Regions from separate parts of the Homo sapiens genome. Here region 1 is linked to region 2. A link means that fine-mapping ties the variant in region 2 to the expression of a gene that starts in the linked region. Tissue or cell type: lung. Region 2 holds a variant in brackets; the other region holds the start of a gene. All regions are shown on one strand. Distances are from middle to middle.

Region 1 (16,705 bases), 21 kb after region 2:
GTAACTGCTAATGTGTACAGAGTTTCTTTCTGGGATGATTAAAATATTCTAAAATTAGATTGTGATGATAGTTGCACAACTCTGAATATACTAAAAAAATCAAATTGTATTTTTTTAAAGGGTAGATTTTGTGGTGTGTGAATTATATATTAATAAAGCTATCATAATAAATAAATTTTAAAAGAGATCATCTAGGCAAAATTGTTTATTTCCCCGGGACCCTACATTAGACAATGGAAATACCAAGTAATCATGATATGATGTGATCTTGAGAAGTAAGTCCATTTGGATAGTGCTGAAAGCACATTGGGTATAGGTCTTATGACATAAGAATGTTTACACTTGGTTGGGTGTGGTGGCTCACATTTGCATCCCCAGCACTTTGGGAGGCTGAGGCGGGAGGATCGCTTGAGCCCAGGAGTTTGAGACTGGCCTGGGCAATGTAGTGAAACCTTGCCTCTATCGAAAAAAAAGTAAACTTATGTCACTGTTTTTAAATCTTTTAAAACAGCTTCAGAAGTGTATAAGATCAGCTTTATCTTTCCAAATGGAGACAAGTATGGTAAGTATACGCTTCAATTACTTTTTCTGTATAGAAAATTAAATAGCTTAGGAATAAAAAACTGAGACTGTTAAATTTTATAAAACTACTATTAGGATATTAACTTTATTAACTAAAATAACAGAAATCCTAATAGATAAAGAGCTTTTAAAATCAAAATTCCAATGCCTTGGAAACCTATGGGATCTGTCAATCTTCCTGGCCCTTGAGTCTCAATTGTTACAAGATGTTCTGTGTCCATGGATTTTCTCATCTCTGGTCTCACTGGTTTCAGTGCTAGGGAGCCAAAGAAACCCATGAGGTGTAGTTGCGATTAGGCCCAGACATAACTATTCTCATTTATAATCTTCAGTTTTTCTCCTCTGTTTAGATGGTGACTGTACAAGAACATCTTCTGGAATCTACGAGAGAAATGGAATAGGTATTCATACCACTCCTAATGGGATTGTCTACACAGGAAGCTGGAAAGATGACAAGGTATTATTGTTGTTTTTAATATTGGCAGTGGATAAATAACCCTGTAGGTTTAGTGATTCCAGGCATTTCACCATTAATCAAAAACTCCTATAATGAGTAGACTATATAATAAAAATAACAAATGATCATATTAACATATATTAACTTATGAGTAATATTAAACTCACTGTAGAAAGCTAATCATCGTTACTTTCTTTCTCATCTCCTATTCATTGAGTAAAGCTGAATCCGTTACATAATTTTCTCATTTAATCCTCATAATAACCTCATGAGATAGGTACCATTAATACTCTATTTTACAAATGAGGAAAATCAGGCTCAGGTTTCTTGCCCAGCTAGTAAATGATAAAACAGGAAAGTATACCCTGGTCTGCTCAAATCCAAATTTGAATTCTTAACAACTACTTTGTACTGGTTTCCTGAACTAACTAAACTGGTTGCCCTTTAAGATTTCTGATACATTCAGGGTATCTTGAGGACCCCTATTTATCTTCATCATGGACCCCCTGATGTTCAAATGTCCCAGATCCAGAACATTTAATTTACTGGGCTTCACAGATAGATACAGATGAAGGAAAATGATAAAAATGTTGTCTTTATACTATGGAAATAAAGGACAATACAAAGTTGGTTAAGTAATAATTAGCAGATGATAGACTTATATTTGTACATTTTTTAAAGGTTCTTGGGAAACTGAAGATTAGTTTCTAAGGTAATTTCCTTTGTTACAAACAGATGAATGGTTTTGGAAGACTTGAGCATTTTTCAGGAGCAGTATATGAAGGACAATTTAAGGATAATATGTTTCATGGACTGGGGACTTACACATTCCCAAATGGGGCAAAGTATACTGGAAATTTCAATGAAAATAGGTAAGCTTAAAATAAAAAAAAATCACTGCATTTCTAAAAGATTATTTTCTGGTATGTTTGCTTAAATACTTATTTATTTATTTATTTATTGAGACAGAGTCTCCCTCTGTCATCCAGGCAGGAGTGCAGTGGAGTGATCTCGGCTCACTGCAACCTCTGCCTCCCGGGTTCAAGCGATTCTCTTGCCTCAGCCACCCAAGTAGCTGGGTCCACAGATGTGCACTACCACACCCAGCTATTTTTTGTATTTTCAGTAGGGACGGGGTTTCACCGTGTTGAGCAGGCTGGTCTAGAACTCCTGACCTCAAGTGATCTGCCTGCCTCGGCCTCTCAGAGTGCTGAGATTACAGGCGTGAGCCACTGTGCCCAGCTGCTTAAATACTATATTTAGTTAATTCTAAATATTCTTTTATGATATAGTTTCTAAAAATTGTTGGAGGCCAGGTGCGGTGGCACAGCACCTCAAACATCATTGATAGTGAAAAAATATTTGTTGAATAAGTGAAGTAATTAAGCTAGATAACCGATATAAACTTTTCATTTTTTTAACTCATTGTTTTGGTTTTGTGTGAACCTAGATTATGTGATCCTAAAATCTTGGACACCAAATAATTGTTTGTTTTTGTTTGGAATAGTATGTGGTTTTTTTTTTTTTTTTTTTGGTTTGTTTGTTTTTTTGGTAGGATATGAAAGCAGGATGCTGGGTTTAAAAGCAAAGCTTGAAAGTAGAGGATATAATCTTCAGACATAGTATATATTATGCTAGAAAATCTTATATCTGGACTGTAAATTATTCATCTTTGTTAATGGAAAACTTATTTTCTACTATTGCAGGGTGGAAGGTGAAGGGGAATATACTGATATCCAAGGACTAGAATGGAGTGGTAACTTTCATTTTACAGCTGCTCCAGACCTGAAATTAAAGCTTCACATGTAGATGTGATGTTAAATTAAAGTTGAAATGTAGTAATTGAAGCTTTTAGTTGTAAGGAAAGCAACTTAATCTGTTATTTGAAATGACTTCATACACTACCCCTATAAGTTTGCCAATAAAACCATCACCTGCTTACACCTTTTTGAACTTTATATTCATTGTCTTACAATTAGTTTAAAATAAATGACATGATTCAATTCAGTCTGCTTATTATAATAACTATGGCAGAAGCATCCAAATCTTGGCAAAGTTGATTTCCAATCCTCTGTTTGAGTTTTGTCATTTTTTTTTTTTTTTTCTAGTTTGTGCTTGTGTGTCCTGGTCAACATCCGACCTCTTTAAAAAAAAAACAACTTTTTTTTTTAGGCTGTAATACATTTTATTCATTTCTTATTATTTTCTAACTTTTATTTTAGGTTCAGGCGTACATGTGCAGGTTTGTTATACAGGTAAACTCATGTCACAGTGTTTGTTATACAGATTATTTTGTCCCCTAGGTACTAAGCATAGTACCAATAGTTATTTTTTCTGATCCTCTCCCTCCTCCCAGCCACCATCCTCAGGTAGCCCCAGTGTCTGTTGTTCCTTTCTTTGTGTCCACAAGTTCTCATCATTTAGCTCCCACTTATAAGTGAGAACATTCGGTATTTGGTTTTCTGTTCCCGTTCTGTTAGTTTGCTAAGGATAATGAACACAATTTTAAGTGTACAATACATTATTGTTGACTATAGGTACAATGTTGTACAGCAGATCTCTAGAGCTTATTCATCTTGCTTGACTGAAACTTTATGGCCTTTTATTAGTTACCTCTTATTTTCCCATCACCCCAGCCCCTGGTAACCATATTCTACTCTTTGATTCTATGAATTTGACTATTTTATTTTTCTTATTTTTTATTTTTTTGAGATGGGGTTTCACTCTTTTTGCCCAGGCTGGAGTGCAACAGTGCAATCTTGGCTCACTGCAACCTCTGCCTCCCGGGTTCAAGCTATTCTCCTGCCTCAGCCTCCCGAGTAGCTGGGATTACAGGCACTTGCCACCATGCCCAGCTAATTTTTGTATTTTTAGTAGAGATGGGGTTTCACCATGTTTACCAGGCTGGTCTCGAACTTCTGATCCACCCGCCCTCGGCCTCCCAAAGTCCTGGGATTACAGGTGTGAGCCACCCCACCCGGCCACATTTGACTATTTTAAATACCTCATACTTAAAAGTGGAATCATATAGTACTGGTCTTTCTGTGACTGGCTTATTTAGAATAATGTCCTCAGGGTTCATCCATGTTGTCACAAATCACAGGATTTCTCTTTTAAGGCTGAGTAGTATTCCATTATATGTGTAAACCACATTTTCTTTATTCATTGTGGTGGACTGCTACTATATGAGTCAGCAATCCTACTTCTGGGTGTTTATCCAAAAGAATTGAAGCCGGGTGCAGTGGCTCATGCCTGTAATCCCAGTATTTTGGGAGGCCAGGCAGGCCAGGCGTTCAAGACCAGCCTGGCCAACATGGTGAAACCCCATCTCAACTGAAAATACCAAAAAATTAGCCAGGGGTGGTGGACGTTTAGTTTGTTTCCACATCTTGACTATTGTAAATAGTGCTGCAGTGAGCATAGGAGTACTAATATTTATTTGAGATCTTGATAGCAATTCTTTTTTTTTTTTTTTTTTTTTTTTTTTTGAGATAGAGGAGTCTCACTCTGTTGCCCGGGCTGGAGTGCAGTGGTGTGATCTCGGCTCACTGCAACCTCTGCTTTATGGGTTCAAGCAATTCTTGTGCCCTGGCTACCCAAGTAGCCAGGATTACAGGTGTGGTCCACCATCCCTGGCTAATTTTTTGGTATTTTCAGTAGAGACAGGGTTTCACCATATTGGCCAGGCTGGTCTTGAACTCCTGGCCTGCCTGGCCTCCCAAAATGCTGGGATTACAGGCATGAGCCACTGCACCCGGCTTCAGTTCTTTTGGATAAACACCCAGAAGTAGGATTGCTGACTCATATAGTAGTTTTTTGTTCTTGTTATTTATTTATTTATTATTATTATTATTTTAATGTGGACCACTTCACAAATCTGCATGTCATCTTTGCACAGGGGCCATGCTCATCTTCTCTGTATCATTCCAATTTTAGTGTGTGTTCTGCCAAAGCAAGTACAGTAGTTATATTTTTAATCTCTTGAGGAACTTCCATAGGATTTACCATAGCAGCTGCACCATTTTGCATTCCCAGCAACAGTGGGCAAGTGTATGGTAACCCAGTTCTTCCCACTTTCTTTCTGTGCCCTTACTGAAAATCACAGAGTACCTTGACTGCTCTGTGACCCAGCTGGCTATATGTTTTTCTCAGCAGGCTTGAACCCAAACTGGGCCTTGAACATTCCCAAGCACTGAGAAAGGTATTTCGGTTGTTGCTCAAAACACTGAAACTGGCCCCCAGCCCTGAGCCAAATTTCTCAAACTGTCATAGAAACTCCAGACTCTGATCCCCTTGCTGCAGACATACCTGGGTAGAACATTCCTTTTCTCTCTCAGCAATTGCTGCAGCCCTCTGTAAGGAAGTTTCCCTAATAAATTCTTTGGACTGATCACCCTAGAGCTTAGAGTTTTTTCTTTGGTATTCCAGCCAGCCCTATCTCAGGACAGTTGGAGACTCCCTTGTGGGAAGTCCCCCTGCCACTGCTTTTGGGGTGATTCCAGCCGAGGATTTGAGGGTTTAGAGAGACAAAACAGCAAGGGTTCAATTTCTCCACCTCCTTAGCATTTGTTTTTTGTTTTTGATGATAGCCATCCTGTCTGGTATAAGGTGGTATCTCATTGTGGTTTTCATTTCTATTTCTCTGATGATTAGTGACATCGAGCATTTTTCCAAATACCTATTGACCATTTATATGTCTTCTTTGAAAAAACGTCTGTTCAGTTCCTAATCCATTTTTAAATCAGGTTATTAATTTTTTTTACCATTGAGTTGTAAGAATTCCTCATATATTTTACAGATTAAATCCTGATCTGATATATGATTTGCAGATATTTTCATCCATTCTGTAGGTTGTTACCTTTTCACTCTGTTGATTGTTTCCTTTGCTGTGCAGAAGATTTTGGTTTGATGTGGTTCCACTTGTTTATTTTTTGTTTTGTTGCCTGTGCTTTTGGTGTCATTATCCATGAACTCATTGCCAAGATCAATGTCATGAAGATTTTCCCCTGTTTCCAACAACACATGGAAAGGGTCATATACCATGACCAAGTGAGATTTATCCCTGGGATGCAAGGATAGTTCAACATACGAAAATCAACTAATGTGATATTCTACATTAACAGAATAGAGGACTAAAATCACATAATCAGCTCAACAGATGCAGAAAAAGCATTTAACAAAATTGAGAACCTGTTCATTATTTAAAAAAAAACCTCTTAACAAATTAGGAACAGAAAGAAATTACCTAAACATAACAGAGGTCATATATAAAAAGCCCACAGCTAACATCATACTCAACAGTGAAAAACTGAAAAGCTTTTACTCTAAGACTGGGAACAAGGCAAGGATGCTAACTCTTGTCACTTCTATCTTTAAAAAAGTATACATTAAAGGAGACTATCAAGAAAATGGAAATACCATCCTCACAATGGGATAATATACTTGCAAATCATATCTGATTGTCAGAAATTTGCTTAATATAGTCACTGCCTCAGCATCCATTTTTAGGCCTGACATAAGTTGTCTGACATCCAGTCATATCCCATTACTCTTGGCCTAGTTAAAACTTTCCTTCCCCTTGTAGTTGTTTGCAATACAGCCCACTTGTTCCTTACCCTGCTGACCCAAAACCCAACACATCCCACAGGTGCTGACCATGATAAAACCTAAAGGTCAAAATAAGTCATGCAAAAATAAGTTCCCCCTTTCCACATGTTTTCTTTAAACTAGCCAATCCACAACCCCAGAGGGAAAGCCTAAGGGATAACATCCGTGGACCTTAATAAAGGTGTAGTCCTGTGGTCTTCTCTCTCACCCCCACCCCACTGGTTGAGCTCACTGCTACCTCCAGATTTCCAGAAACCATAGCAATAAAAATTATGACACTGATACAAAGTCTAGTTTCCAAAATGTATAAAGAACTTTTACAACCCAACAATTAAAAAAACCTTAATTTTTAAAATGGGCGGGGGGCAGTGGCTCACACCTGTAATCCCAGCACTTTGGGAGGCCGAGGCAGGCAGATCACCTGAGATCAGGAATTCAAGAGCAGCCTGGCCAACATGGTGAAACCCCATCTCTACTAAAAATACAAAAAATAGCTGGGCATGATGGCGGGCACCTGTAATCCCACCTGCTCAGGAGGCTGAGGCAGGAGAATCGCTTAAACATGGTAGGCGGAGGTTGCAGTGAGCCGAGATCGCGCCATTGCACTCCAGCCTGGGCAACAGAGCGAGACTCCCATCTCAAAAAAAAAAAAAAGGTCAAAGAATTTGAACAGATGTTTCTCTGAAGGAGATATACAAGTAGCCAATAAGTAAACAAAAAGATGCTTAACATCCTTACTCTTCAGGGAAATGAACCTTAAACCTACAAACCCACCGTGAGATACCACTTCACACCAACTGGGATAGCTATTATTATTATTATTATTTTATTTTAAGTTCTGGGGTACATGTGCAGGATGTGTAGGTTTATTACATAGGTAAATGTGTGCCATGGTGGTTTGCTGCACTTATTAACCCATAACCTAGGTATTAAGCCCAGCAAGCATTAGCTATTTTTCCTGATGCTCTCTCTTCCCCCACTTCCACAACATGTGTGTTGTTCTCCTCCTGTGTCCATGTGTTCTCATTGTTCAGCTCCCACTTATAAGTGAGAACATGCATTGTTTGGTGGGATGGCTATATCAAAAAAAAAAAACAGACAATACAAAGATTGGCAATGATGTGGGGAAATTGGAGGCCTCACACATTTCTGGTGGGAATATAAAATGGTGCAGCTGCTGTGGAATACATTTCCTCAAAATATTAGACATAGAGTTACTACGTGACTCAGCAGTTCCTAGGTATGTACGCAAGGGAATTGACTTGCACACGAATGTTCATAGCAACATTATTCATTGCTATAGTCTGAATGTGTCCTTCCAAAATTCATGTTTAAACCTAATTTCCTCACGACTGTAATCCCAATACTTTGGGAGGCCAAGGTGGGTGCATCATTTAAGGTCAGGAGTTTGAGACCAGCCTGGCCAACATGGTGAAACCTCCTCTCCACTAAAAATACAAAAATTAGCCAGGCGTGGTGGTGTGTGCCTGTAATCCCAGCTACTCGGGAGGCTGAGGCACAAGAATTGCTTGAAACTGGGAGGTGGAGTCTGCAGTGAGCCAAGATGGCGCCACTGCACTCCAGCAGGGGCAACAGAGTGAGACTCTGTCTAAAAACAACAACAACAACAACAAAAACCTAATCTCTACTGTGGTAGTATTAAGAGTTGAGGCCTTTAGGAGGTGATTAGGTTATAAGGACAGAGCCCTCATGGATGGGATTAGTGCCCTTATAAAAGAGATGTGAAGGAGATTGCTTGCTTCTTCTGTCACAAGAGAATGATGCAAGAAGGTGCCATCTTTGAAGAAGAGAGCAAGTCCTTACCAGACACTAAATCTGCTAGTGCCTTGATCTTGGACTTAACAGCCTCCAGAACTGTGAGCAATACATTTCTGTTGTTTAAAATTACCCTGTCTAAGGTATTTTCTTATAGCAGTTCAAATGGACTAAGACATGTATAATAGCCCCAACTGGAAACAATCCAAATGTCCATCAACTAATGAATGTGTAAACAAAATGTCCACATAATGGAATATTATTCAGCCATAAAAAATGAAGTACTGATACTACAACATGGATGAACTTCAGAAACATTGTACTGGCCAGGCAGGTGGCTCATCCTGTAATCCCAGCACTTTGGGATGCCAAGGTGTGTGGATCGCTTGCCAGGAGTTTGAGACCAGGCTGGGCAGCATGGCAAAATCCCATCTCTACAAAAAATACAAAAATTAGCCAGGTGTGGTGGCACATGCCTATAGTCCCAGCTACTTGGGAGGACTGCTTGAGCCCAGGAGGCAGAGGTTGCAGTGAACCAAGATCATGCCACTGCACTCCAGGATGGGTGACAGAGCAAAACTTCATCTCAAAAACAACAAACAAACAAACATTGTACTAAGTGAAAGGAACCAGTCACAAACGGCCACATATTATATGATTCCATTTATGTGAAATGCTCTGAATAGGCAAATCCTTAGGGACAGAAAATAGATTAGTGGTTGCCAGGGGAGGAAGAAATTGGGAGGCATGAGGTTTCTAGAATTAGACAGTGGTGATGGTTGCACAGTCTTGAAAATGTACTAAAAACCACTGAATTGTTCATTTAACAGGGACAAATTTTATGTATGATGTGTAAATTATGTCTCAATTTCTTAAAAAGTAGATCTGTGTGTTGTCATATATTCTATGTCCAGAAAACTTCTTTACTTTTTACATAAGATAATTTAAAAATTACCAGAGCAGTATATGTCAACTACATTTAAAAAATTACAATAAAGACCTGAATGTTTTTGCTGAAACTCTATATTCTAAAACTGACAAAAAATAGTGTACACAATAGATAACTTCTTTGTCATATTTCTCTATTCAAAATCTTGTGAATATTTGTATTTCTCAATATGTTATTGCCAAAAGATGTATATTTTTATTTTTTGCTGTACTGGCACAAATTTGGGTTACAATGTCTTCTAAAATGTTAAAATAAAAATGGCATTTTTGTTAGTTTCTCATAATAATAGCTTTATGGCTAATTTTGAAAGACCCTATTTGTAAGTTTTCAAAGACACATTTTAAGAATTGGACATTTTTGTATATGTTGCTAAACATTAGCTGGCATGGCTTTAGAATTAAATATTATTATTATATGGAAATTCATGAAGAGACAAATACTGGACAAGTTAAGATAAGGTGAGAAGATGTTTTCAGGGACCAGGACATATAATTTAAATTCAAAAACTTCTGGAAAATATAGAAAAGTATCTGCTTTGCTGCAAAATAAATTTTCCCTAATTTTTTTCAATTTATTTAAGGCAGCAAGATATATATTTTACTCTTAAAATATTTAACTTGTATTGCTATGTTAATAACTTTTCAAAGTACAACTTTTCAATTTTCTAGTATACCAAAGATATTCCTCCTAAATGGGTTTCTTCCTTTTTACTCATTGAAACTAAATGCAGTTCAGTTATTTGATTAGTTGATGCTAGAATTTGACCTGGAGCTTATATAATTAGAAGAGACACTAGTTTTCCTCATTTAAAAGCCTGGTTAGCATACTACGGTCTCGTTTCAGGGGAAGTCAAGCCTCTCTACTGCTTCTTTTTATAACCTTTAAGTTAATTCAGAACCCAGATAAGCCTTGATCTGAGGATGATATAACCACCGCAGGCAACATGGGGTAAGTATGCGCTTTTATATGCTTTAAGGGGCACTGAAAGGGGAAACAATTTTATAAGAGATGAAAACCCATCAATCCTTACCACGTGGTGTACTAATTTAAATCCAATATATGCTAACATTTATTTGAGGTAGGCATTCAAAGAAATAACTTTTATTTAAGAGTTATAACAATTTGTAAAACATTTATTTCCTTGCTTAATTTTTATATTATGTCTTAACTGCGCTTTGCAGGTTATCGATAAACTGGAGACTGAAGTTGTTCTGCATATTAATAAATATAGTTGAAGATGAGTTAAATTTTGAGAGCAGTCTTAAAGAAAGGATGCTAGACAGCGTAAATCTGACATGGACATGCCTCTTTGGGATTAAGAATAATTAAAGAATGAAAAAGATTAGGGATGGAGGGAGATTGGTTTATTCCTTTCTAACACAGAAAAAGAATAGGGGAATCTTCAGCATTCACTCCCCTATGTACAGAACAAAAAACATATCCTGATTGAAAATGTGTACTGATTAATTACATGGGGGCTTTATTGGTGAAACCTAATTCTAAACACTTCATGGGGCTTTGGTGTGTAATGAGAAGAACTGAGTTTCACTTAAACATTGTCTTAAGTGAGAATAGCGTTCTATTATAATTAGTATTGGAATTATGTGAGTTTTTATATGCTGAAATAGTATTCTGAATATGTAGAAATCTCTATATCACCCTTTTATATTTTTAATAGCCCCTTTTAATACAAAATCATATTGCTGTAAATGGAATAGCTATTTCATTGAAGGCTACTTCTGAAGGATTCAACATAATGATCAGAAATGTATCCTAGAGAAAAAAGTTTTTGATGCACATTTATTCTAAACATTTTTCACAAACTGAATTAATTAATGTCTACATTTTTCATAACCATGGGCTCTGGAAATGCAATCTAAACTCATTTGAAAACTCAGAGGCTTTTGAAACAAGATGACCATACTATTGGTTTTTTTTTTTTTCTTTTTTCTTTTCTTTTTTTAGACAAGGTCTCACTTTGTCACCTGGGCTCAAGCAATCCTCCCACCTCAGCCCCCACAGGTAACTGAGACCACAGGTGCACACCACCACACCCGGCTAATTTTTGTATTTTTTGTAGAGATGGGGTTTCGTCATGTTGCTCAGGTTGGTCTTGAACTCCTGATCTCAAGCAGTCCTCCCACTTCAGCCTCCCAAAGTGCTGGGATTACAGGTGTGAGCCACCATGCTCGGCCTTATTGTTAACTTTTTCTTAATTCCCTTTATTTACCTTCCCTTTTCTCTGTGTATAAGGGTGTACTTCAACATAGCAGGCCAGTAATAAACTAAGTAATGTAGATACAAAGATCAACTGATCTTCCTCCTTCCCTTCCTCTCTCCTTTCCTCCCTTCCTCTCTCCCTCTTCCTTCCTTTCTTTTTCTTTAATGACAGCAGTTCTTAACCTTTTCGGTGTCAAGAATTGCTTTTAGAATCTTCAGAAACCAGTCCACCATTTCTGCAAAAAAAAAAGTAAAATCACACAAAATTTTGCATACAATTTCAGAAGATTTACAGGTGACCTGAAACCCTATTCCTGGGACCACAGGTTAAGACCCTTAGACTTTGATTTTAGGACTGGAGTATGATTTGTTCAATATTTCTCTTTGTTTGGATTTTTATAAATGTAAGAATCTTTAAATTCATAATTCTTGCTAATCTTCTCAAGGACAGTGTGGAAGATTCCCCACCCGCCCCCCACACAATTTACATGAGTGTGAAACACAGTTTAACCAACATGCATCACATTACTGCTGCTGGGCCCCAAGGACTTGACTAATCACTTGTGCCTTTTGAGAGTGCCAGGAATCACCTTGGGAGTCATGGAAGGAAAAAAAACCCTCATTATGTTATTTGTAAAGCACTTTGAATGCCCCAAATAAGATGAACGAAACAAATCATAAATGCTAATATTACAGAGAGCACTCTTCTGATTGGTATGTTCATGATTATTTTGTTGTCTGTTCATGCCTTTACTGACAAAAAGACAGGGTAGTAAGTATTAACATCTGTTTGAGTCTTCCTAAAATAATCAGAAAAATAAAGAAAAAGTGGCAGCTAATCGGATTCTCAAATTTATCCATTTGAGGAAATCTCTAGAATTTATTTCCTGAGAATGAGGGAGTAGCTGTTTTGGATTTGTCTTTGGGGCCTACTTATCTCAAATGATTTGAGGATATAATTCCCTTATATGGGGCAATGCCAGCCCTTTCCACCTTTCCCCAGGCTATGCTGGCATGGTTTTAGCAAGCAATGAAGAAGCAAATACTGGAAAATTCTTATGCTCTCTAAAAAAATCTCCTCCTCGTAATTTTCACTGGGTTTTTTATGGAGTGTGTGAGTAGGTGGGGTGGGTAGAGATGATGCCTAAAGGTGGGTAAACAGATAACTGGGGAAAAGTAGAAAAACCTAACTGACATCTGCTAAGTACCATAACACCCGGGCAAAGGATGAACAATGGGAAAGAAAGGATGGTTGTATTTCTTTTTTGAGACATTTTAAAATGTGCTTTCCCCATCTCCTAGCAGAGTTAGTCAGTGCACCCCCAATTGACAAAAACAAAAGTTAAGGCTCTGCTAAAATTGTAGAACCAAGTTCATTATTATAGCATATTCAGCCTCCTTTTAGTCTCCTGGTTCAAATAAGTTAGAGTAATTTTAAAAATTATCTTATGACATATTTCCTCCTTCTGAATCTGAGAGTGACTATCCAACTCTTTTTCTTGGGTGAAGCATACATTTGGCTCATGGAGCAACCTTTGAAATGTCGCTTCTATCTGTGCCCTCCTTTCCTTTCTAAGAGTCACTTCCCTAATTCAGGTCATCATTATCTTTTACTTGAGTTATTAAAGGTGCCTGCTCACTGGCCTCTTTGCAGCTGCTCTTTCCTCTACAGTGCCACTAAGTCATCTTCTTACCAGAGATATGTGATCTTGTTATACCTCTGCTTAAACATTTTCAATGACTCATTCTCTCCACTGCAGAGCAAGCTCCAAAGAAGAGATTCAAGGCTCTCTATCTGCCCCCAATCTACCTGTCTAGCCTCACCTTCTACTCTACCTTCTTTGCTCCCTAGGGTTCCTAAATCCACCTAGGCCTTGTGCTTTGTTCCTCTGGTAATCCTTTTTTTTTTTTTTTTCTTTTTTTGAGACAAGGTCTCACCCTGTTGCCAGGGTGGAGTGCAGTGGCACAGTCTTGGCTCACTGCAACCTCTGCCTCCTGGGTTCAAGCAATTCTCCTGCCTCAGCCTCCTGAGTAGCTGGGATTACAGGCACCCGCCACCATGGGCTAATTTTTGTACTTTTAGTAGAGACAGAGTTTCACTATGTTGGCCAGGCTGATCTCGAACTCCTGAGCTCAAGCGATTTACCTGCCTCAGCCTCCCAAAATGCTGGAATTACAGGTGTGAACCACTGTGCCTGGCCCCTCTGGTGATCCCCTTTTGACCGTTTCTACATATCATGCAAAGCCTGGCTCAAATCCTATCTTCTTAATGAAGCTTTCTCTAATCCCCACAAGGGAATTCATCTTTTCTCTGAAAATTTTAGGCACTTTACACTTTTCTTTTTCATTTGTCACAATCCATTATATGTTACAGTTATTTATGTGTCTCATCTTCCCTTCTAGACTGGAAGCAGAAACAATGGCATCCTTTCATTTCTCCTAGCACCTGGTACAATGCCTTTTATGTGGTATATGCTTATTAAATACTTGTTGAATGCACGTGAACTCTGTTTAAACCCCTAAAAACTTAATTTTAGCCAAACTTTCTTTCTTTTTTTCCCAAGTGAGTTACCTCATTTTCCAGGTTTCTATCTGAAGAGCTCAAATGAGTGAGTAGTATCTAAAATGTAGGCAATTCAAGGGAGATAGGGCACAAACAAGGGCTGGAGTGAAGACTTCTAAAGTCTGAAGACTGAAGACTGAAGACTGTTGTTAATAAGCAGAAAGCACACATAGGCTCCAAGGAAATATAAGAAAACTTTCCAGAATTAAAAATCGTTCTTGCCAGGCTGGCTCACTCTTTTGATCCCAACACTTTAGGAGGCCGAGACACTGGGATCATTTCAGCCCAGGAATTCGAGACCAGCTTGGGCAACGTGGCAAAACCCCATCTCTACCAAAAACAAAAAACAAAAAACAAAAAAATTAGCCAGGCATGGTGGCATGCACCTGTAGTTCCAGCTACTCAGAGGCTGAGGCAGGAGGATTGCTAGAGCCCGGGAGGTCGAGGCTGCAGAGAGCCACAATCACACCACTGCACTCCAGCCTGGGCTTCAGAGAGAAAACCTGCCTTTAAAAAAAAAAAATGTTGCTTTTGGGCTCTGGATAGCTTCCTAGAACGCCAGCATATCAGTAAAGATTGAGTTAATCTGTATATGCTGGGGGAAAAAAAAAAAGAATAATAATAGAGGCTTAAACAAGCTAGAAGTGTATTTCTCTCTTACATTAAAAACAAACAAACAAACAAACAAGCCCACAAAGGTAGGCAGTCTAGTGCTGTTAGATGAGTTCCTTAGTGAGAGGCCCCCAGGTTCCTGTCATCTTGCTCTTCTGCCATCCTTAGTATATCACCTCTTGGTCCAAGACAGTTGCTAGGTCTCCACCTATCTCACTGATGTTCAGCCAGCAGGAACGAGGAATGGGGAAAAAAGGTGTGTTCTCTCTTTTAGGAGACTTCCCAGTGGTCACTCAGTGTTTCTACTTGTATTGCATGGGTAGAAATCTAGTCTCATGGTTACACTTAGCTGTGAGGAAGAGGGGAATACAGTCTTTTAACTGGGTTTCCAAAAAAAGAGGAGAATGAATACTGGGTGGCAACTAGCAGTGTCTGTCAGAGCCAGTATCAGGCCTTACATGGCCTCTTATATTCCTTTAGACAAAGTACAGCATTATGTACAAAAGTAATCTTTTAAGAAAAAAAAAATCAGTAAAATTAAAGGAAAAAAAGAGGAAGCCAAGCTGGGAATAAACAGATTCACCCAGAATAAAGGCCTCTTGATAAAGTGACAAAAGGTGACCAAGTAAGGCTTTGCCCCTCCCTAAACTCTATGTCCCAGTCTCCCTCCCTCCAGGCTTCGTGTCCCTGAATCTTCACATCCACACTGTGAGGCAAGTATTACTATTACTAAGCCAATCATACAGGTCAGGAAACCGAAGTCCAGGAAGATTCAGTGAATTGGCCAAACTGCCCGTACTGCAGCAAAAATTATATAAATCACAGAATGTTTTCTAAATAGATTTGTTCTTAATTTTGAGTATAGATCACTTCAATTGGCGCTTAAAGAAAAACCTATTACAAACACATTTCACTTGTCACTTGAAGTAGGTGATTTAATGTGGAATATTAGAAAAGACTCTAGATTTGTGGCTTTCAATATTTTACGGTCATATCAACTGCTTTGAACTCTTCTGATTCAGCAAAGCCCCCTAAGCCATGTTGGAGTTCTCGAGCTATGTTTTTAAATACATAGAAATTTATTTTTATTAGTCCCCCAAACATATGAATACTGAGGTGATTGTACTTGCTCAATACCAAGTGACTTAAAAATTAAAAGACTAAAAGAAACAAAGACTTTTACTTTTTTACTTTATATGTTTTTTACCTATTAGAAATCTTTAACAACAGTGAATTGCATATATAATAAGAACTTTTAATTACAAAATTATAGGAAAAAATGATGGTATAAAATGCAAGGTAGCTATCATTATCAATGGCGTTTTTTTTTTTTTTTTTTACAGAACTTCTAGAGAAAACAAGAAGAAGACTTCAAAAAACATGCTGTGATGTCTCCCAGTGGAGACAGGGCACGAGGTGAGTGAAAATTGCAAAGAACTGTTTTCTAATAAGAACACAGGCAAACTGAGAACTTAGCTTAAACCAGTGATCATTATTGAAGCAGAAGTATTATAAATTTCTTTGTAGAATTTTATAACCATTCTTGGTTTGATAACCATCAAATAAACAAATTGTGAGATTACTTAATTAGCTAGCAGTAAGGGCAAATAGCCACCTTCTAAACCAGCTATGTTACATCAGACTTGATTGCGTATATGAATGCTAACAGCATTGAGACAAGAATGAACTATGCTTTTTTGTTTGTTCGTTTTGTTTTGTTTTGTTTTGAGATAGAGTCTTGCTCTGTCGCCCAGTAGTGCAGTGGTGTGATCTTAGGTCACTGCAACCTCTGCCTTCCAGGTTAAAGCAATCCTCCTGCCTCAGCCTCCCGAGTAGCTGGGATTACAGGCTCACGCCACCATGCCCAGCTAATTTTTGTATTTTTATAGAGACAGGGTTTCACCATGTTGGCCAGGCTGGTCTTGAACTCCTGACTTCA
Region 2 (8,000 bases):
TTAAATGGCCACAATAGAATCAGTACTGACACAGCATTCCAAAGATGCACAGGACCTTCACACTGCCAGTATGTTTTCCTTAATATAATAATTGACTCAAATAAAACAATTTACTCAGATCCAGCATCAGCATCTTGTTCTTGCAGGTCTCGGAGAAGAGCTTTCACTTTCTCTTGATTCTCAGAAGTCATATGTAGAGTCTGAAGGGGTACTTTGGCTTTGGGTTTCCATTTTGGGCGTGACTCTCCTTTGCTTATGTTACTGTTGCTAGGTCTATAGAGAACAAAAGAGCAAAATTACACACATATCTTCAATCAGAACTTTTACACTCTCCTCAGGGGTCCCCAGATATACACAATACAAACTGGATTGTCAAGTATCTTACAAAAGATGACAATGAATGTGAGGAGATTCTCCATTTTCTATAGTATTTACCAGACTTCATTATATCAGACCTGCTGGAAAAAAACCTTATCAGATTCTTGGCCAGGCGCAGTGGCTCACGCCTGTAATCCTGGCACTTTGGGAGGCCGAGGCTGGCGGATCACCTGAGGTCAGGAGTTTCAGACCAGCCTGGCCAACATGGTGAAATGCTGTCTCTACTAAAAATACAAAAATTATCTGGGCGTGGCAGTGCGCTCCTGTAATCCTAGCTACTCAGGAGGCTGAGGCAGGAGAATCACTTGAACTTGGAGGTAGAGGTTGCAGTAAGCCAAGATTGTGCCACTGCACTACAGCCTGGGCAACAGAGCGAGATTCCGTTTAAAAAAAAAAAAAACAACAAAACTTAACAGATTCTTAATCATTAATTCTGGCTTCACTAACTCAAGAATCCTTAGGAAAAAGCAATGCTAATGATGGTTTCCTCTGCACTATAGGACATGAAGAGCATTTCATTTCATTCTGCATTAAAATCTGAAAACCACTGAGTTTCATTCTTCCTTGTGAATATTAAGGCCCCATTTCTAAAATACCCAATTATCTTTATTTCTGATTATTAAAAAAAAAAAAAAAAAGGCCAGGGGCATTGGCTCACACCTGTAATTCCAGCACTTTAAGAGGCTGAAGTGGTAGGATTGCTTAAGCCCCAGGAGTTCGAGACCAGCCTGGGCAATATAGCAAGATCCTGTCTCTATTTAAAAAAAAAGAAATAAAAAAATTACACAGCATATATAATCTCTTATGATTTGTCTGATCATTAGGAAATGATCAGTTAAACATGAGGGGGAGTTGGGAGTTTCACATGCTCCTATCTTAAAGTCATCCTTTATCTTAAAGTCAGCCTTTCTATTTGTAAACTATATGCCAATCTCTTTAATCTCCTCAAGGAAATCATTCCAGCACTTATCCCCCTTTCTAAATCACTGGTTTTTCATTCTTCTTTGGATCATTCCCATCAGCATACAGACATACTATAAGGTCTACCCTCTTAAAAAAATGAAACCAAGCCAAATCCTCCCTTGAGTGCACATCTCCCTGTAGCTACTGACCCATCTCTCCTCCCTCTAGCTCCCTTATAGTAAAACTTCTCATTTAGGTTATCAAAATCATTGTCTCTGTCTCCATTTTCTTTCCTCTTCTCTCTGAAACACAACCCAATCAGTATTTCCTATGCTACTACAGCTCTTGTCAAGGTTAACCATGATACCCACATTGTCAAATGCAGTGGACAATTCTTAGTGCACATTTTCCTTGACCTACCAGAAGCATTTTTCCACAAATGTGTACCCTCTTTAAGCATACAATTCGATCTTATTGGCTACTCTCCTTTAAAACACCTTTGTCCCTTGGCTTCCAAAAACCACTCTCTTAGTTTCCTACTTCATTGGCAGCTCCTTCTCAATCCCCTTTGTTTTTCATACTTTCTCTTAGCTTTATTTATTTTTTAACTAAAAATTTTTATTGACACATAATAATTGTACATTCTTTATACGGTTGATAATGGTTTGGCTGCAAGTCAAATCTCATCTTCAATTGAAGTTCCCATAATCCCCACATGTTATGGGAGGGAACCGGTTGGAGGTAGTTGAATCATGGGGGCAGTCTCCCCCATGCTATTCTCGTGATAGTGAGTAACTTCTCACGAGATCTGATGGTTTTATAAGGGGTGTCCCCCTTTACTTGGCTCTCATTCTTCTTTCTCCTGCCACCTTGTGAAGAAGGATGCTTTTGCTTCCCCTTTCAGCATGATTGTAAGTTTCCTGAGGCCACCCCAGCCCTGTGGTACTGTGAGTCAATTAAACCTCTTTCCTTTATAAATTACTCAGTCTTGGGTATGTCCTTATAGCAGCGTGAGAATGGACTAATACAGGGGTACATGTGCTATTTTGATACATGCATACAATGTGTAGTGATCAAATCAGGGTAATTAGGATATCTAACACCTCACACATTTATCATTTCTTTGTGTTGGGAACATTCCAAATTCTCTTAGCTTTAAAACCTAGAGTGTCCCAGGGCTCAAACATCAGATACCTTCTCTATTCGATTTTATCCAGACTCAGAACTTTAGCATTTATCTATAGAAGACTCACACATTTACATCTCCAGCCTAGATCTTTTTCTTGAACCTCAGATTTATATATTAAATTATCTATTTTATATCTACACTTGGAGAACATCTCCTAACTGGTCTCCTTGCTTTCAACTCATGCCCCTTTATAGTTTATTCTCTACAAAGCACACCCAGTCAATGCTATTGAGTATAGATTCATAGACTGTACACTGCACAAAGGTTCCTGGCTGGGAGGGAAGAAGAGGGAGGAAGGGACAGCAAAATCCGGTCCATGTTCTGCTGGCTAAGCCATGATCCTGGTGTGGGGCTATAACTGTCCAAAGGAAGGAGCACCATTTTCTAATTCACATAAAGGCATACACTGAATAGAAACAACTCTGGCCAGACTGACTGATAATATCACACACCCTTGCCTCAAACCCTCCAAAGGCCTTCTGTCTTACTTCATGTAAAAGCCAAAGTCCTAATAATGGCCCATGAAGTCCTATACAGTCTGGTCTTTCTGATCTAATTGCCTACCACTTGCCTTCTTGCCCACTCATTCTAGCCACATGGTTCTTTGCTATTTCCTAAACCTTCCAAGCACATTCTTGCCTTAAGAAATTGCTCTTCCCTCTGCCTTGAATGCTGTACTCAGAACTTCACAGCTTATTCCTTTACTTACTTCTTGCCTCTCTTCACGTGATACCTTATTAGGGGGGCTTTCTACATAAATTAACAATTCTATTTTGGTATTTTATATCCCTGTTACACTCCTTTATTTCTCTCCATAGCATGCGGCACCTGGTAATGTTATACATTTGTTTATGGTTTTTCTATCTCAAATCCCATTCTATCTAGATAAGGACAATATTTTACTCCCTGCTGCAATTCCAAGTCCCTAAAACAGTGCCTGGTGCATGGTAGGCATTCAGTAAATACTTACCAAATGAATGAACATCTACGGACTCCAAGAACCTATAATGTCCATGTTTTGAAAAACTATGGAGCTGCAGCTAACTCAGAAGTTAGGTTCTTGGCTAGGCACAGTGGCTCACGCCTGTAATTCCAACACTATGGGAGGCCAAGGCAGGAGAATCGCTTGAGCCCAGGAGTTCAAGACCAGCCTGGGCAACATAGAGAGACTATGCTGCTTGCTATTTATAAAGTCTATAGTAGTGTACAGTAATATCCCTAGGCCTTCACATTCACTCACCACTTCCTCACTGACTCACCCAGAGCAAAATCCAGTCCTGCAACTTCCATTCACGGTAAGTGCCCTACATAGGTATCATTTTTAATCTCTTATACTCTATTTTTACTATACCTTTTCTACAACTAGACATGTTTAGATACACAAATACTTACCATTGTGTTATAATTGCTTAGAGTATTCAGTACAGCAACATGCTGTATAGATTTGTAGTCTAGGAGCAATTGGCTACATCATACAGCCTAGGTGTGTTGTAGGTTGTACCATCTGGGGTTGTGTAAGTACATTCTATGATGTTTGCACAACAATGAAATTGCCTAACAATGCATTTTTCAGAACACATCTCTGTCACTAAGTGATGCCTAATTGTAGTTATACTGTATAACATGCAATAGCAAAACATTTACTTTTATTAAATACTCATTAGAATTACTAGAATTCCCATAATTTATTCATTAGTTAAAAGTTGAACAGGAGAGAAACCTAGATAAGGCATCTGTTACTGGTCACCACATGTAACACCATCAGATGATGGCTGATTTGGCTGGAAAATACACAGCTCATCAACTAGAAAGACACAGTACAGTCATGTTGCACTTTAGGCTGTTCAATGTTTGTTTTTTGAGATGGAGTCTCACTCTGTCACCCAGGCTGGAGTGCAGTGGTGTGATCTCAGCTCACTGCAACTTCTGCCTCCTGGGTTCAAGCAATTCTCCTGCCTCAGCCTCCCTAGTAC[C/G]TGGGATTACAGGTGACTGCCACCATGCCTGGCTAATTTTTGTATTTTAGTAGAGACAGGATTTCACCCTATTGGCCAGGCTGGTCTCGAACTCCTGACCTCAAGCGATCCACACACCTGGGCCTCCCAAAGTGATGGGATTACAGGTGTGAGCCACCGTACCTGTCCATGTTCAATGTTAACATCATCATTTTAACATCAGTCTATGATGCATAAGGAATACTTAAAATAATTTTCATCACACTATTTCTGTATTTACTTTCCTAGTAACACTGGGTATAATAGCAGTATTACACTCAATTCACAGTGTCATGCAACCTACATACACACAAAAGCTGTTATTTCCCATCATGTCTTCAGAAAAGGGTTACAAAGAGGAAGACAATTTGACCAGAATTACTCGACTTTTTTTCCATTCTCAGCCATCTGTTGTCCCATACATTAGGGGTTGATACCATTTCCATATTTAAACATTCAAAGAGTTATAATGACCTGGAAGGGCGCCTTGATTCACTGAAGATACAAAAGTCATCTCCATCATCCCATATTCTACTGGAGGCCTTTCTGTTGCCGCCACCTCCACCACCACCACCACCGCCACCGCCACCACTCCCATGAGATTTACTGGCGTGACTCCTGCCTCCTCTTCCTCCTCTAGAAGACCCTTTTCCACCTCCTTTGCCTGGCTTGCCTTTTCTTCTTACTGAAGAACTCATTTTCACCTGCAAGAGAAAAAAATTAATGTAGACATCATAAAACCAGACATGTATGATAATCCTTTGTTTGCCAAACTTATGAATATAGGCTACTTTAAAGAAACAAAGGAAAATGCATATGTAAAAAGAGCTGGTCTTGGGGCAGGATTCTGAATCTGTTCCAGTGAAAAAATTTTAAAACTACAAAATAAAAAGAGCCAGCCAGTTTAGGGATAGTATGGATAAATCTTCACAAAAGATTTATAAGCACTTCTACCTCAGGACTAATATTTAGTGAATGTCTCTGATACAGATTTCTAAACTAAAGATGTACATCATAAACACATGGAGAAGTGTCAAAATACACATGTCTAGGCTTTAATCCTAGATTCTCATTTGGTTAGGTCTAATTTAGAGTTTTATTTATTTATTTATTTATTTATTTAGAGATGGAGTCTTGCTCTGTCGCCCAGGCCGGATGATCTCAGCTCACTGCAACCTCTGCCTCCTGGGTTCAAGCAATTCTCCTACCTCAGCCTCTGGAGTAGCTGGGACTACAGGCGCCTGCCACCACGCCCAGCTAATATTTGTATTTTTAGTAGAGATGGGATTTCACCATGTTGGCCAGGCTGGTCTCGAACTCATGACCTCAAGTGATCTGCGCACCTCAGCATCCCAAAGTGCTTGGATTACAGGTGTGAGCCACTGCACCCAGCCTAGCATAGGATTTTAAAAATCCAGTTGAGAAGTTTTCATGTATTTAATATATGTTTTGACAAAATTTAAATTTATATATGCTCTATCAGGAACACAGCTTGGGCTCAGAGATTCTGCCAAGGGCAAAAGGGAAGTAGGCCGTAAGACAGATAGCTCCTAATCTTTTTCCAAAGGACTGACTCCATTTACAATGGAGTGTGGAGAAGTTCAAACCTAAAGGTGCTTTCAAGAATAGTGAGGTTGTGGGGAAAGGGAGATTACAGGATTAAATGAAGATGTAGTTTAGACTGTTGGCCAACTAGTTTGCAGGAAGCAAACCAAGGAATAAGATCACTAGGAAGTTCCTTTTTGGGATTAGAATGAGTATTAAACTGGGATCTCAGAAACTATTGCTTCAAAGAAGCCATACTTTGGTTGGATTAGTTTGTAAAGGAATTTACTCTCCAGAGCATTGTTGAAAACAATTCAGCAATCAACCATGGGCATACCTAAAGCTGTACCTCCCAGAGGAGCAACAACAGAGGCTTAAAATCGTAGGAGGGAAATAGACTTCACTAAAATATTCTAGCCAGTCACTAAAAATTAAACCAGCAAATAACAATAAGAAGCCCCTGAAAGGGGAGAATCAGTACCCAGAGTTGTTACAGTATGTTATCCAAAATGTTCAGTTAACAACAAAAAAGTCACAAGGCATGCAAAGAAACACTTAAGTATAACCCATACACTGGAGAGAAAAAGCACAAACTGCCTATGAGTGAGAACAGATGTCAGATTTAACAGAAAAGGAGTTCAAAATAGTCATTATAAGTATGTTCACAGAAATAAAGGAATGCACAATTAAAGCAGTAAAGGAAGGTATGATGACAATGTCATATCAAATTGAGAACATCAATAAAGAGATAAAAAATTATATATATAAAAAGAACCAAATGGGAATTCTGGAGTTGAAAAGTATACTAATTGAAATTAAAAATTCACTAGAGAAGCTCAACCATAAACATGAACTAGCAAGAGAAAGAACTGATGAACTTGAAGACAGACTGACATTGATTATGCAAGCTGAAAACAGAGAGAACGATAAATGAAGAAAAGTGAACAGAGCCTTGGAAAAATGTGGGACACCATCAAGGGTACCATATACATATAATGAGAATACCAGAAGGAAAGGAAAGAAAGAAAAGAGCAGAAAAAATATTCAAAGAAATAATGGTAGAAAACTTCTCTGATTCATTAAAAATCAATAACCTCTACATGCAGGAAGCTCAATGGCCTCCAACTATTAGAAAATAAACACAGAGATGCACAAAATAGACATGTTGCAATAAAAATGTTGAAGGTCAAAAGACAAAGAGAAAATCATGAAAGGAGTAAGAGAAAAACAACTTATCACTTACAGGGGGGAACCCCAATAAAATTAATGACTGATTTCTTCACAGAAACAATGGAGGGCAGAAGGTAATGACATATATATTTAAAATACTCAAAGAAAAAAATAGGGCTGGGCGTGGTGGCTCATGCCTGTAATTCCAGCACTATGGGAGGCCAAGGCGGGCAGATCACGAGGTCAGGAGATCGAGACCATCTTGGCTAACACAGTGAAACCCTGTCTCTACTAAAAATACAAAAAATTAGCTGGGTGTGGTGGCACACACCTGTAGTCCCAGCTGCTTCGGAGGCTGAGGCAGGAGAATCACTTGAACATGGGAGACAGAAGATGCAGTGAGCCGAGATTGCGCCACTGCACTCCAGCCTGGGTGACAGAGTGAGACTCCATCTCAAAAAAACAAAAAACAAAAAACAAAAAAAAAACAACAAAAAATAGTTAACCAAAAATCCAGAAAAGCTATCTTTCAAAAATGAAGGTAAAATGAAAACTTTCTCAGACAAACAAAACTGAGAGAATTTGTTGTCAATAGACCCGCCTCACAAGAAATACTAACAGTTCTTCAAGTTGAGGCAAGTATCCCTGGATGGTAATTTAAATCTACATGAAAAAACAAAGAGTACTAGTAAAGGTAATTGAGTAATTATTTTTAAAAATCCACATTTATATTGGACATTTATTTATTTGAAAACCAGTACAAAAGTATTGTCTCTTCTTTTCTCTGAAATGATTTAAAAAGCAGTTATATAAAATAATATGTA

Alleles and levels. Alleles are on the strand shown, and positions count from the first base shown. SD is a standard deviation of normalised expression in the study named.
For the expression in lung of the gene that starts at base 10,208 in region 1, allele G in region 2 goes with a lower level than allele C (small effect, 0.33 SD a copy in GTEx).

Evidence for each region. PIP is the estimated chance that this variant, and not a neighbour inherited with it, causes the effect. A credible set is the group of variants that fine-mapping cannot tell apart.
Region 1: it holds the start of ARHGEF33, and the variant in region 2 is the best candidate, but not a certain one, in a credible set for the expression of ARHGEF33 in lung (GTEx, PIP 0.85).

The regions. Positions count from the first base shown.
Region 1 is chr2:38,879,668-38,896,372 of GRCh38, forward strand. It overlaps ARHGEF33 (Rho guanine nucleotide exchange factor 33), which reads left to right and starts at 10,208. Exons shown (of 18, transcript NM_001145451.5): 1 at 10,208-10,319; 2 at 16,110-16,182. It overlaps MORN2 (MORN repeat containing 2), which reads left to right. Exons shown (of 5, transcript NM_001145450.3): 2 at 512-562; 3 at 933-1,039; 4 at 1,775-1,911; 5 at 2,746-3,042. The coding sequence ends at 2,848. It also overlaps the pseudogene RNU6-851P.
Region 2 is chr2:38,863,247-38,871,246 of GRCh38, forward strand. It overlaps DHX57 (DExH-box helicase 57), which reads right to left. Exons shown (of 24, transcript NM_198963.3): 2 at 4,936-5,165; 3 at 115-273. The coding sequence starts at 5,159. Among named protein-coding and RNA genes, the nearest start is that of DHX57, 8.7 kb to the right of the region's middle. The variant C/G (reference allele first, on the strand shown) is at 4,444.